2 separate regions of the Homo sapiens genome follow, and region 2 is linked to region 1. The links come from fine-mapping of genetic effects on gene expression. A gene starts in region 1. The other region holds a variant in brackets. All regions are shown on one strand. Distances are between the middles of the regions.

What was found. PIP is the estimated chance that this variant, and not a neighbour inherited with it, causes the effect.
Region 2: its variant is fine-mapped to the expression of MYBPH in spleen (GTEx, PIP above 0.99).

Annotation. Positions count from the first base shown.
Region 1 is chr1:203,174,305-203,177,206 of GRCh38, reverse strand. It overlaps MYBPH (myosin binding protein H), which reads left to right and starts at 1,381. Exons shown (of 11, transcript NM_004997.3): 1 at 1,381-1,656; 2 at 1,746-1,880; 3 at 2,610-2,777. The coding sequence starts at 1,452. RefSeq lists an enhancer at 2,717-2,902.
Region 2 is chr1:203,198,913-203,201,814 of GRCh38, reverse strand. No RefSeq gene overlaps it. Among named protein-coding and RNA genes, the nearest start is that of CHI3L1, 14 kb to the right of the region's middle. The variant A/C (reference allele first, on the strand shown) is at 1,351.

The DNA.
Region 1 (2,902 bases):
TTTGTACTGGCCTCATCTTCCTTTCTGGCCTTACCGCCTACGGATGTACCTTGAAGAAGGGAGCCTGGTGTTGACTGCATTTGGATTTAATGTAGATGAGACAGATGAGACGCAACATTTCTGTGTGCCTTGCTCTTCTGCTCATCACTGGGTCTGTGAGTAGCTGAAGTTGCTCATTTGACCCCATATTTTGCTTTACAGTTGCATAAACACTCCACAGTTATTTATCCATCCCACTGTTGAGGGACAGCTGTTTTCCCCCACATTTCAACAATTACAAATAACATTGCCATGAACCTTCTTCTCCATGTCTCCTGGGGCATGTGTGGGTGTTATATGAGCGGCACGGCTGGGTCACGGAGTAGGCACCTCATCCATTTTACTAGGCACTAGTAAAACTCTCACATTTTCCAGAGTGACTGCTCCAATACCAGCAATAAAAGTTCTTAATGTTCTCCCTCCTTCCTGACACATGGCATTTTCTGGCTTTCCAGTGATTCCCAGTCTTAACATTTTATCGAACAAATGAATCAATGACTAGAAATCTGGCCATATCTGCCTCCTTTGGCACACTGAGAAAGCCCATGCCCACAGCCTGCTTGGAAGAGTCTAGAAGCTTCAGAGTGCTCTCCTCCACTAGGGCATCTTCCAGATCTGCCTACAACTGCAACCCATCCCGAAGGGCGAGGGGTTCTCTGTAACAGGTGGAAAACTGAGGCCCACAGCAGGCATCAGGGGAGACGAGCTCCTTACCAGCCGCCCAACTGAGACAGGAGCCAGGAGACTTAGTGCCCCTTCCTGGGGTTCCAATGCTGGAGGACCATCCTCTGAGCAGCTCCACCCTCAGCATCTCAATTCCCTCCCTCTCTAGGGCCCTCAGCCTCATACAGCACAGGCGAGAGTCCCTGGGAACTGTGGGAGCCCAGGGAATGTGGACCCCAGAGGCAAAGCTGGGAGTGCTCACAAGGACGATTGTCCCAAACTGTCAGGGCCCCAGCACCCAGTCTGAGAAGCTCTGGGAACAAGTGGCCCCATAGACGCCAGACACACAGAGCCTGAGCTGGGCTCATTCTCCAGATAGAAGTTCTTCCTCCTATTGCCCTGACACCTGGCACGCGGCCTGCTCGATGTCCCATCTCACCCATCTGCGCCCTCCCCCAGCTGGGCACCAGCACCCTGGCTGTTGAAGGCCAGTCGGGGAGATGGATGAGGAAGTGACTCCTCAAGGGGCCCTTGTGGTTCCTCCCCCAGAGCTATTCCTGGCCTGGGCGCCTCTCCACCCTCCAGTCCTCCTGCTTGACCTGACCCCACAGCTGGGAATCGTTTGCTGGGGGTGGGGCAGCCCCTGACTATATAAGCCTGGACCTAGGTGTCCCAGGCACCCTAGAGGCCCAGGCCCCCCAACGGCTGACCCCTGCACACTCCACCCTGGCCCCCCAGCCAGTCCAGCAATGATGGAAAAAAACACCTCCGAGGGCCCTGCCTGCAGTCCAGAGGAGACCGCATCTGAATCTGCCAAGGTGCCCACAGCAGAGCCTCCCGGAGAAGTGGCAGTATCAGAGTCCACCAGAGAAGAGCAGGTGCCCAAGCCGCAGGCCCCTGCCCCACAGGCCCCTACAGCCTCCACAGCCACTAAGCCTGCACCCCCAAGTGAAGGTGACTGAAGGTGGGGCAGGGGGAGGAGGGAGGCAGGCATGTCAGGGGTGGAGGGGAGCTCTTGGCCATGAACCTCTTCATCTCCCCAGATGTCCCCAGTGCCCCACTGCTGCTGACCCTGGATGATGTGAGCAGCAGCTCTGTGACTGTGAGCTGGGAGCCCCCAGAGAGGCTGGGGAGGCTGGGCCTCCAGGGCTATGTGCTGGAGCTCTGCAGAGAGGGAGGTGAGTGCTGGGCTAAGTCTTGCATACACCCAGGGGAGGTTGTCATGGAGGGCTGCAGGGACAAGTGCACAGGCCCTGTGGTTGGTCAGTCTGGGAGAGATACAGAAGGAGGGGATGCGAGCAGTAGGCTCCTCAACCCACCCACCTGCCCTTTCTTGCTCCACCAGCAGGAGAGCAAGAAAGGGTAGGTGGGTGGGTTGAGGGGCTCCCTTGTCCTCAGCTCCAAGGAGCTTCTGAGTAAGGGAAGGGTAAGGGGACACTGGGTTCTCCTTTGGTGAGAAGGGAAGGAAGTGCTAAGTCTCAGAGGACCCCGAACTGTAGGAAGTGGAAAGGGAGGAGCTGGAGAGGGGAATGTTAGCGTAAGAGACAGTGAGGAGAAAGCGGGAATGGGGTGGGGGTGTGGGGGCCACATCCCTGCTGCCACTGTCCCCCTCCATGGCCCAAGTCCAGCCTGGCCTCTGCCTCTGCCCCTACCTTGCTGTGTGACTTTGCAAATGTGTCCAACCCTCTCTGGGCTTCAACAACCTCATCTCTAGCCACAATTTCAGGGCTCTAACATCAGGTGTCTTTGATGCCATTTGACAAGAAGTCAGGGAAGGCAAACAAGGGGAAAATGAGGCCCAGAGAGGGAGGCTGATTTCCCCAGATCACCAGCAGGAAAAGAAGCCCCATGGAGAGGGGCGCCTGTGGCCACATTGCAAAGACCTCACACTCTCTCCATCCCCTCAGCCTCGGAGTGGGTGCCTGTGAGTGCCCGGCCCATGATGGTGACCCAGCAGACTGTGCGGAACCTGGCTCTGGGAGACAAGTTCCTCCTGCGCGTGTCTGCAGTGAGTTCTGCAGGGGCTGGCCCGCCGGCCATGCTGGACCAGCCCATCCACATCCGAGAGAACATTGGTAAAGCCCATCCTGGCCTTCAGCTACCCAGCCCTTCCCAAACACCTTATCTAATGGAGAAACTGAGGCCAGCAGGTAGAGGGAACCAGGCAGTCATTTCCCCCGTCCCACGCTCACATGCACAA
Region 2 (2,902 bases), 25 kb before region 1:
ATAGTTGCCGTTGTACCTTCTGGGTCTCTTCCACCACCTGATCTCTAAATGTCAGGATGCCTCAGGGCTCAGGCATGGGCTTCTGCCCTTCTTGCTCTACGTGAACTCATCCGTTCCCATGGCTTTAAATAGCATCTTGACACCAATGACTGTATCCGCAGCCTAGACCTCTCCTCCAAGCTCCAGATGCATGTATCCACCAGCCCGCTTGCTCTCTCTACCCAGATAAGGCATAAACAGTTCTTTAATATGGCTGAGACAGACCCCCTACTCTAAAACTTATCTCCACCCCATGAATTCCTCACATTAAACAATTAGCACAACCTTGTCCACCTTGCTAAAGGTAGGACCCCCTGGGTGGTTCCTGGTCCCTCTATTCCCTCATCCTTTTACATCCAACTCATCTGTAAGTGTGCGGATGTTCCCTCCAAGGAATGTCCATAGTCCACCCTTCTTTCCACCTCCACGTCCCCAGCCCAGGGCAGGCCACCGCATCTCTTGCCTGGACCTCTTTAACAGCTGCTTATGTTCATGCCTCTTCCACTCTTGCCATACCACAAATCTATTCCCTACAGAGCCACTAGAGTGACTTTCCAAAACATAAACTCTATCCTGGACTACCTGCTTAAACATCCAGTGGTGTCCCATTGCACAGAGGACAAAACCCCTCTGTGGTTTCCACAGGCCCCAGGACACAGACCTGCCTCTCTCCCCGGGGCCTCTTGTCTCTCCCCACATCCCCAAACTACTCTAGCCAGCTGGTCAGCTTGCTTGTGCTTTTCTCTTTTTTTTTTTCCAACACACTAAGCTCTTTCTCACCTCCAGGACTTTGCATATGGTGTTCTCTGCCTGGATCATTTTCTCTCTTCTTGAGGTAGCTGACTCCCTCTCATCCCTCAGATTTCTGCTTAAGATCACCTCCTCGGAGAAGCCTCCCTGACTGTCCTAACTAAAGGAGGTTCCACTCCTCACTCTCCCCACCCTAGCCCAGGACTTGGCACCTAATAGGGGCTCAGTAACTCTTTCCTGAAAGAATGAACACATGCTGCCCTTAGTCCCTGGCAGACTCCTGTGAGCTCTTTAGTTTATCCTTCTAAGCCACCAAAGATTCACTCTCCTTTCCGCTTATTTTTACGTTTTCTCAAAACTTTCCTCATAAACACCATATTGTTGAGTTTCTTTCTCTCCCTAAAATAGCTGCAGAACTGGACAAAGACTGGCTATCTGCTTCCTAGCTGTCCCTTTCAGTTTCAGGGTTTATGTGCTAGTCATTGCAGGGGAGCAGTGGGGAGAATGGAAAATTACCAACAAGGAGAAGTGGCAGAATCCAGGGACTGACCGTGTTCTTAC[A/C]CCCGTGGTCCTCAGTCTATAGTTAGCTTCTGACTTCCTTTCTTGGCAAGATCTATACCAGCTATCTAGGACAGTCCCAGTTTCAACTGTTCTGTCCTATTGTCCCACTGTGTTTCATGAATTTTCTTACAATATTGGCTCTCTCTCTTTTTCCTCCCACTCTCCTTTTATCCCATGAGGGCAGCCTTACTTAAACAACCCTCGCACTCAGTGTTGAAAGAGCTGAATTCAGTTCAAGTCTTGCTCAACCACATAAAATGTGCACGACTTTGGGCAAAGCACTGATCCTCTCTCAGCTTCCGTTTGCTCACCTACTGAGAGGGATAAGGCCAACACCTCCATTCCAGCATTCGGCAGGGCGGGTTGTGACTGGAATAGCATGTGTTGGGCACTTGGCACCCATAGCAAGTCTCCCTTGCCCCTCAGGATGAATAATGGAGTGAATTAGTCTTTCAGCCAAAAGACTCTGGGCTCCAGAGAGTAATGTAATGCTTTACCCAAACAGTGGAAGTGTGGAAGTGATGTGGATGTTGGGGGACTGTTATATTCTCTCGGTTCAGCTGTGGCCTGAGTGATGAGTCAGGTCATGTCTGTAGATAGAGAGCTCTGTCTCCACAAAGAGGAGGTGCCCAGCTCCAATCCCTGGGGAAAGGTTGTATCTTTATTGGAAACCAGAGCTCAGAAGACTAGCCTTAGGGAGATGGAAGAGGGCCCCGACTTGGGAGCAGGGGTGCATCTTTCAACAGGGGTCCCTAAACAGATGGCGCCCTCCGTATGGAATCAGGAGTCGAGCATAGCTTGAACGTCTGACTGTCCAGGACCCACCTCAAAGCGTGCACTTCCCCTGCCTCACCCTCAAGCCTCCCCTGAGTCTTATCTGAATGCCTTGGCTCAGGCTCTGCTTTTCAGGGGGAGGACTGTGCCACCTCCTGGGCCAGAGTGTTAAGGGGTGACCAGTGCCCCTGAGACCACCTTGGCTACAACCTCTCAAGGGAAATGTGCATCTTGGTGAATCCGAGGGACAGGGTAGGGATCATGCAATCCAGCTGCTTCTTTCTCCCCACCAGGGAGGTCTTCATCCAGTGCCAACCTGGGTAGGTCTGCCTCGAGCATGTTTTTATTGAGGAGCTGGCACTTTCTTTCAAATGTCAGGGGCATTGAAGACCACGCAGGTTTCACCTCCTCCAGGCCCTTGCCTAGCAGGAGAAAGGTCACTTTCAGGCATGTCCTCACACTCCCTGCACTCAGGTTTGCCTTGGGCCATGCCTGGTCAAAGGAAGCCTAGAGACTGGGCTCCAGTACAGGCTCTGTATTTAGCAGCCAAGTGACTTGGAAAGGTCACCTGCTCTCTGCTTCCTCATTGTCAATGGAGAAAACAATCTCTGTATTAGTTTTCTGTGGCCGCTATAACTAATTACCACAAATTATAATGGCTTAAGACAGCACATATTTAATGTCTTACAGTTTTTTGAGGTTACAAGCCTAAAATAAGTTTGATAAAGCTAAAATCAAGATGTCCACAGGGCTGTGTTCCTTCTGGAGTCTCCAGAGC